2 separate regions of the Homo sapiens genome follow, and region 2 is linked to region 1. Evidence: fine-mapped expression QTL. Tissue or cell type: whole blood. Region 1 holds a variant in brackets; the other region holds the start of a gene. All regions are shown on one strand. Distances are from middle to middle.

What was found. PIP is the estimated chance that this variant, and not a neighbour inherited with it, causes the effect.
Region 2: BMAL2 starts here. The variant in region 1 is fine-mapped to the expression of BMAL2 in whole blood (TOPMed, PIP 0.94).

Annotation. Positions count from the first base shown.
Region 1 is chr12:27,402,763-27,407,136 of GRCh38, forward strand. BMAL2 (basic helix-loop-helix ARNT like 2) reads left to right here. Exons shown (of 17, transcript NM_020183.6): 14 at 671-779. The region is part of intron 1 of BMAL2-AS1 (BMAL2 antisense RNA 1); the gene reads right to left. Among named protein-coding and RNA genes, the nearest start is that of BMAL2-AS1, 42 kb to the right of the region's middle. The variant C/T (reference allele first, on the strand shown) is at 2,344.
Region 2 is chr12:27,330,174-27,334,547 of GRCh38, forward strand. It overlaps BMAL2 (basic helix-loop-helix ARNT like 2), which reads left to right and starts at 2,663. Exons shown (of 17, transcript NM_020183.6): 1 at 2,663-2,930. The coding sequence starts at 2,900. LOC124902906 (a long non-coding RNA gene) reads right to left here and starts at 2,624. Exons shown (of 2, transcript XR_007063255.1): 1 at 2,449-2,624. RefSeq lists silencers at 2,547-3,016, 3,037-3,156.

The DNA.
Region 1 (4,374 bases):
AAAATTTGAAGGTGAAATTAAAAGTAGTTCTGCAGGTTGGGTTATAGGAATCCCAACTTTGGTTTAGAAGAGACTAAATTCAACGGGAAATAGATATCCCATTTAAACTCCCAGAGGTATCACCATGTCCCCCTCAAAATTCCCACAGTGCTTTGCTCACTTTTCTGTTATAATCTTGCATTATACTGCAATTAGTTGTTCATTCAACTTGCTTTCCAGTAGACAGTTCTTTAAGGCAGGAATGATGTTTTATCCATTTTTCAGCCCTAGCAGCTAACATTGTTCCTTGTCAATTGTGACACTCTTGGACAAATTAACGAAAAGTATTGGGGGAGTTTTTGCTTATCTGTGTGAGTTTTTCACCACAGGAATATATTAATGTATTATTTGTAAAAATAAAAATCTTAGGAAACATTGAAGTAGTATTGCTGTGGAGATTAAAGTGGCAAGAGACTGGAGTCAAGGGTTACTAGTCACAATTGTGCCCTCAGTGACTCTACACATTTGATTCAAAGAGCATCATGAATTACATATGTAATGCAAGGATGAGTGTTTTCCAACTTTTTTGGATGCAGCTAGTCTGTTTCTTTTAAGGAGAGAACTGTGAAATTATTTGAATTGAAAGAAAGATAAAGTCCTCAACTGAATTTCTCCTTTTGCTGTTACTTAGAATCCTCTAGACAGTCCTGTATGAGTGTACCTGGAATGTCTACTGGAACAGTACTTGGTGCTGGTAGTATTGGAACAGATATTGCAAATGAAATTCTGGATTTACAGAGGTAATGTTTTATTGCTGCAAATATTTTCAAAAGTAAAAATATCATATTTATAAAATCAATATACAAAAATCAGTAGCCTTCCTATATACAAATGATAACCAGTTTAATATAATGGAAAATATTATCTTTACAGTAGCAACAAAAAGATATAAATTTTATAAGAAATATTCATACCAACATGAAAAAAAACTTTAAAATTCACAAAGATATATAAAAAGATAACTCATATAACTTCAGATATAAGCTGTTTTTCAACAGGAAGGCAGAATTGTAAGAATTGTCCTGTTCCTTAAACTAGCCTGTGAATTTAATGTGGATCTAGTCAAAATACCACCGTGTGGCCAGGCATGGTGGGTCATGCCTGTAATCCTAGCACTTGGGGAGGCCGAGGCAGATGGATTGCTTGAGTCTAGAAATTTGAGACAAGCCTGGGCAACATGGCAAAACCTCATCTCTACAAAAAAAAAAAAATTAGCTGGATGTGGTGGTGCACGCCTATAGTCCCAGCTACTTGGGAGGCTAAGGTGGGAGGATCACTAGAGTGGGGTGGAGGGAGAGGGGCTGGTGGGGCAGTGTCAAGGCTGTAGTCAGCTGTGATCCTGCCACTTACTCCAGTCTAGGCAAAAGAGCAAGACCCTGTCTCAAAAAAAAAAAAAAAAAAATACCACCATGCATTTTTTTTTTTTGGAATCCAACAGATTATACTAATCACATTAAAATATCTAGAAATTTATGAAAAATAATAGTAATAAAGTGAGACTAATGCTGTCAGATATTAAAATACGTTATAAAGCTACAACCACTAAAACATTTTAGTGCAACCCACAAATAGATCAATGTAAAAGATTATATTTCAGAAATACAATCAAATGCACATGCAAATTTATTATATGGTAAAAATTAAAAATGACACCTTAAATCAGTAGGTAGAAATGAATTAAACATTAAAGGGCATTATGATAACTGTATAACCATTTGGGGAAAAAATAAAGCTAGACTCCAACTTTATTCTTTACACTAAAATAAATTACAGATAAATCAGAGTTCAAAGTAGAACTATAAAACTAAAGCTTTTCGGGTGGAGCCAAGATGGCCGAATAGGAACAGCTCCAGTCTACAGCTCCCAGCATGAGCGACACAGAAGACGGGTGCTTTCTGCATTTCCAGCTGAGGTACTGGGTTCATCTCACTGGGGATTGTTGGACAGTGGGTGCAGGACAGTGGGTGCAGCGCACCAAGCGTGAGCCGAAGCAGGGTGAGGCATCGCCTCACCCGGAAAGCGCAAGGGGTCAGGGAATTCCCTTTCCTAGTCAAAGGGGTGACAGATGGGCACCTGGAAAATCGGGTCACTCCCACCCTAACACTGCACTTTTCCAATGGTCTTAGCAAGCAGCACACCAGGAGATTATATCCCATGCCTGGCTCGGAGGGTCCTACACCCACGGAGCCTCGCTCATTGCTAGCACAGCAGTCTGAGATCAAACTGCAAGGCGGCAGCGAGGCTGGGGGAGGGGTGCCCACCATTGCCGAGGCTTGAGTAGGTAAACAAAGCAGCCGGGAAGCT[C/T]GAACTGGTTGGAGCCCACCGCAGCTCAAGGAAGCCTGCCTGCCTCTGTAGACTCCATCTCTGGGGGCAGGGCATAGCCAAACAAAAGGCAGCAGAAAACTCTGCAGACTTAAATGTCCCTGTCTGACAGCTTGGAAGACAGTAGTGGTTCTCCCAGCACACAGCTGGAGATCTGAGAATGGACAGACTGCCTCCTCAAGTGGGTCCCTGACCCCTGAGTAGCCTAACTGGGAGGCACCCCCCAGTAGGGGAAGACTGACACCTCACACGGCCAGGTACTCCTCTGAGACAAAACTTCCAGAGGAACGATCAGGCAGCAACAATTGCTGTTCACCAATATCCGCTGTTCTGCAGCCTCCGCTGCTGATACCCAGGCAAACAAGGTCTGGAGTGGACCTTCAGCAAACTCCAACACACCTGCAGCTGAGGGTCCTGACTGTTAGAGGGAAAACTAACAAACAGAAAGGACATCCACACCAAAACTCCATCTGTACGTCACCATCATCAAAGACCAAAGGTAGATAAAACCACAAAGATGGGGAAAAAACAGAGCAGAAAAACTGGAAACTCTAAAAATCAGAGCGCCTTTCCTCCTTCAAAGGAACGCAGCTCCTTACCAGCAATGGAACAAAGCTGGACAGAGAATGAGTTTGATGAGAGAAGAAGGCTTCAGATGATCAAACTACTCCGAGCTAAAGGAGGAAGTTTGAACCCATGGCAAAGAAGTTAAAAACCTTGAAAAAAAAATTAGATGAATGGCTAACAAGAATAACCAATGCAGAGAAGTCCTTAAAGGACCTGATGGAGCTGAAAACAACGGCATGAGAACTACATGACGAATGCAAAGCCTCAGTAGCCAATTCGATCAACTGGAAGAAAGGGTATCAGTGATGCAAGATCAAATGAATGAAATGAAGTGAGAAGAGACGTTTAGAGAAAAGAGAATAAAAAGAAACAAACAAAGCCTCCAAGAAATATGGGACTATGTGAAAAGACCAAATCTACGTCTGATTGGTGTACCTGAAAGTGACGGGGAGGATGGAACCAAGTTGGAAAACACTCTGCAGGATATTATCCAGGAGAACTTCCCCAATCTAGCAAGGCAGGCCAACATTCAGATTCAGGAAATACAGAGAACGCCACAAAGATACTCCTCGAGAAGAGCAACTCTAAGACACATAATTGTCAGATTCACCAAAGTTGAAATGAAGGAAAAAATGTTAAGGGCAGCCAGAGAGAAAGGTCAGGTTACCCACAAAGGGAAGCCCATCAGACTAACAGCTGATCTCTCAGCAGAAACTCTACAGGCCAGAAGAGAGTGGGGGCCAATATTCAACATTGTTAAAGAAAAGAATTTTCAACCCAGAAGTTCATATCCAGCCAAACTTAAGCTTCATAAGTGAAAGAGGAATAAAATACTTTACAGACAAGCAAATGCTGAGAAATTTTGTCACCACCAGGACTGCCTTACAAGAGCTCCTGAAGGAAGCACTAAACATGGAAAGGAACAACCAGTACCAGCCACTGCAAAAACATGCCAAATTGTAAACCATTGAGGCTAGGAAGAAACTGCATCAGCTAACGAGCAAAATAACCAGCTAATATCATAATGACAGGATCAAATTCCCACATAACAATATTAACCTTAAATGTAAATGGGCTAAATGCTCCAATTAAAAGACACAGACTGGCAAATTGTATAAAGAGTCAAGACCCATCAGTGTGCTGTATTCAGGAGACCCATCTCATGTGCAGAGACAAACATAGGCTCACAATAAAGGGATGGAGGAAGATCTACCAAGCAAATGGAAAACAAAAAAAGGCAGGGGTTGCAATCCTAATCTCTGATAAAACAGACTTTAAACCAATAAAGATCAAAAGAGACAAAGAAGGCCATTACATAATGGTAAAGGGATCAATTCAACAAGAAGAGCTAACTACCCTAAATATATATGCACCCAATACTGGAGCACCCAGATTCATAAAGCAAGTCCTTAGAGACCTACAAAGAGACTTAGACCCTCACACAAT
Region 2 (4,374 bases), 73 kb before region 1:
TTATTTTCCCCAGTCACTTAGGAAATCAATAATGGGTAGTTGCTATTTATTTATTTATTTATTTGAGATGGAGTCTTGCTCTGTCACCCAGGCTGGAGTGCAGTGGCGTGATCTCAGCTCATTGCAACCTCCCCCTCCTGGGTTCAAGCAATTCTCCTGCCTCAGCCTCCCGAGTAGCTGGGATTACAGGTGCCCGCCACCACACCCAGCTAATTTTTTGTATATTTAGTAGAGACGGGGTTTCACCGTGTGAGCTAGGACGGTCTGCACATCCTGACCTCGTGATCCGCCTGCCGTGGCCTCCCAAAGTGCTGAGATTACAGGCGTGAGCCACCATGCCCGGCCTATGTAATGTTTTTTTTTTATTTACCATCTTTACCATTTTAAGTGTACAGTTCCCAATGGTAATAAATATATGTTCAGCCTTCTTTTCCCCTTGTTGTTTTCCACCCCCTCTTCTCTCCCCTTCCTGGCTTCTGTGTTATTTATTGTTATGCATCATTGGAAATAGTATCTTCAATTTAATTACACTCTGAAGCAGGTGTGGTTTTTTGTTGTTTTGGGTTTGGGTTCTATCTTGTTGTTTTTTGTTGTTGTTGTTGTTGTTGTTGTTGTTCTTGGACCAAATACAATATCTAAGTGGCTTTAGGGACTCCTCTCTAATCTAAGTTATATTGTTACAATCCCAGCAGAATGCTAAAAGGACAGGAGTTTACAGCTTGTGAGGCCGTGGTTCCTAATTCCAGATGGACAAAGGAGTATTTGTTCCACCTTTAAAATATTTGTTCTTGCCTGAGTACTTAGCAATGAAAGAAAATTAATGAACAAATTAAGTGAAAGGCAAGCAATGATTCCTGGAGAGCAAGGCAGCTCCAGGGCTTTTGGCAGGGGAACCATGCTGACCAGAAGGAACTGTGTGCATTCTATTACACAAATTCTCTAGCATTCTATTATACAAATCATCCAATCACCTTTCTCACATTTTTTTTTCCAAGTTGAAAATATGAGAAAACCACTCACTGGAAATGAGAGATTACCTTCCTATCCATCTGGCAAGACATTATATGTCTCTCTGCCTTATCCTATGGGTTATATAGCTACTCTTTAAAAAACAAAAAAATCATGTCTTAGAAAGTAAAGCTCCAGAGCATAAAGAAAAAAAGAGAGCAAGCAGGCTTTAAACCTGAGCAGTAAGGGGAATACCTATTAAGCAATGAAAGGGTTGTGCCCCATGGAATGCTGTAGGTCGGCTTTGTTTGTGCATTATTACCCTTCCTGCTTTCGTATTTTAGATTCTGGATTCCCCTTCTCTTGCTTTCAGGCTTTGGTGGAAGTGAATCATCGTTTCTAAGAAACGGGGACTGCAATGATTCACAGGCAAGCTTACTGGACACCACAATAGGAACTCCTAAGAAGGAGACCTAACTTTTATGGTCTTGCTTCTACTATCTACTAGCTGAGTGATCCTGGCCAAAATACTCGACATCTCTGAACTTCTGTTTCTCTACTAAGACAGGAATTAAGAAAGAGGTTGTGAGGCTCACTGAGCCGATAAGGGGGAAAATGCATTGTAAGCAAGGCCATGTATAGAATAGTATTTACATTTTAACCCAGATCTTAAAGCCCAGGTCTAATTAATTCTACCTGTTACCCCTTGGTAAACCACCTCAAAATAGTGTACACTTGTCTGGAAAGCCAAGGTTTGATCACATTCGGGAAACCCTGTATGGAATTACTGTTTCTAGCTGCCAGGAGAAGTTGGTGTTGGTAGAATTTGGGGTGGAGTTCCAAGTCAAAGCTAGGAATGAGACGTTTCAAGACTGGTTTTGATTAGGGATGTGTCTTGGTGTGTGTTGAGGACAGCACAGTTTTCAGCACGTCTCCCTTACCTCTAAAGTCCTAGCCCCTGCTTAAGCCTGCAACAGTTTTCTCCTGTCATGCCCACTTCTGCTTGGGAACACACTTCCAAACCCTCTGCCCAGCCTCTCACAATGGCCCTAAGTACTGCCCTGAGGACACATAAGGTGCTGGTTAAGACGTTGGAATTGAGTCCTTGTAGGAAAGTTATTACCTTTAGGCTGGTTGCAAAGTTTGATTTGGTGTCTTCTCTACTGTGACTTTCCTTTACTTACTTCTACTAGATTACCAAGGAATGGGTCTAGGGACCAGTGGGAGGGCAGCAAACCAGTGTATTCTAGACACGTGGCCATAGGATGTAGGGCTGTCAAGTGATGCCCAAAAGATCTTGTTTCTGGATTTACCCAACCGTTCCAGGAGGCAAAACGGCTTCCTCGGGACCCTCTCTCTGTCATCTACACTCTCGTCTCTGCAGCTAAGCCCTTCCTTAAGCAGAAAAGAGCAGGGTCTCTCGTCCAGCACCCTCCTCCCCAACCCTAGCCCCGTGCCCTCCGCTAACCCACCGTGCAATTATCTTCATTCATCCTTTACCTTTGCCCCGAGGGTCTAACAACTGCAATCTTCGGAATGCTGGGACAAAGCTTACTATGAGCATGGAAGCCTGTTTTCAATAGGGTGGTTGCTAGAAGGACTCAACTGGCCTTTTAGTGCTTTGCTGCTCGCGGGAGGGCTCGGCGGGGCGGTGTCCGCAGCGACTCCGCCCTTGGCCCGGGTCTCTTTCCCGCCGGGAAGCCCCGCGGCGCCCAGAGCGGCGGGCGGCTGGCTCCAGTCCGCATGCTCAGTAGCTGCTGCCGGCCGGGCTGCGGGGCGGCGTCCCGTGCGCGCCTACGGGCTGCGGTGGCGGCCGCCGCGGCACCCGGCAGGGCCCGCCAGTCCCCGCTTCCCTGCTCCAGAGCCGCCGCCTGGGCCGGGGCAGGGCGGGCCCGGGGCTCCTCCATGCTGCCAGCCGCGGGGCTGCGGAGCCGACCAAGTGGCTCCTGCGATGGCGGCGGAAGAGGAGGCTGCGGCGGGAGGTGAGGTTGCCGGTGGCGAGGCGACGGCCCCAGGTGGGCGCGCGGCGTCTGACGCGCTGGGGGCGTCCCCGCGACGCCAGGTCTGCCCCCGCTGCCCCGAGGGAAGCGCCCGCGCCTGTCCTCTCGGGCCGGAGCATCGCCTCCGAGGGGCGGTGGGACAAGGCCGCCCCGTGGGGCACAGGTGCGGCGCGGCGCCCGGCGCGTCCTCCCGGGGAGCGGGACGCGGGGAGGGGAGCTGGGGTCGCCGCCGGCGCTCAGGACGCGGTGTCTTGGTCCCGGGCCGGGCGCATTGGCGAAAGGGAGCCAGCGGGGGACCTTGCACCCGGCGCTGGGAGCATCCGCCTCCACCCACTGCTGGGCGCCCGCGTCGGCGTCGGCATGGCATGCACTGCTGCGGGGACTTCCTATATTTCTTCTTTCTTTTGTGTAAACCAGTTGTCAGCAGCCTCGGACCTAGCCCGGTTCCTGTGAACCCCTCCCCTCTGAGCTGATAATACTCGCGGCTTCCCGGCTTGAACCGCTGCCCCGCGGTGGAGCGCGCAGGTGGGCAGGTGCGCGTGGACGCGGGGCCACACTCCGGGATCGCAGCCCGCTCCGCGACAGCCCTCCATAAGCGACAGGCGGCTCGTGTCTTTCACCGCTGAAGCTTCAGGAAAGCCGTCAGTGGAGTTAGCTTGTTCGATTATGTATTTCTGTGGTATTTTTGTGAATGGAGTTGGAAGTTTGCGGTGCTTTTTCCTTCTCGCTAGTATTCACTGGCAGTATTCTGTAGTTCCTTACAACGGGGCCTTTGGGACCACTGCTCACAATTACGGAATGAATACAAAATAGCTGTTGTTTAAGACAAATGAGAGGCAGGAAAACAGAAATAACTGAAGGAAGACTGGCAGAGAAGTTCAGGGAAGCAGTTAATTCTCCCCTTTCCTTTTGGAATAAGATGATAGAGTTTTAGATTCTTCTCTGAAATAAGGCAATGAGAGGAGGTGGCTTTCGAAATTCTAATATAATTGTGGGAATTTACATCATGGGGCGATTTCAGAAATTCGATCATTTGAATATTCGTAGTCTTAGGTAAACCCTTTGTTGAAAATAGAAGATGGCACGTGTGGTGTTTATAAGCTCTGACACCCTTTCTGCTCCGTCTTGTGACTGAGCTCTGCCCTTTACTGTCTGTGTCACCCAGGTTATTTGAAATCTCTTAGTCTAAGTTCCCCCATCTGTAAAATGGAGATAACTATGCAGTCTGCCTTATAGGATTGTTAGGAGTAAATGAGATATGAGATATGAATGCAAATAAAATGCTTAGCCCAATACTTAGGAAATAGTAAGTGCTTCATAAAACATTAACTTAATGTAGTTATTAATTTACAACTTCAATTTGCTTTGTGAAATTGGTGAGTGCTGTCTGGTCCATTAAGAAAGTGTTGTCCCTTGTGAGTTAAAA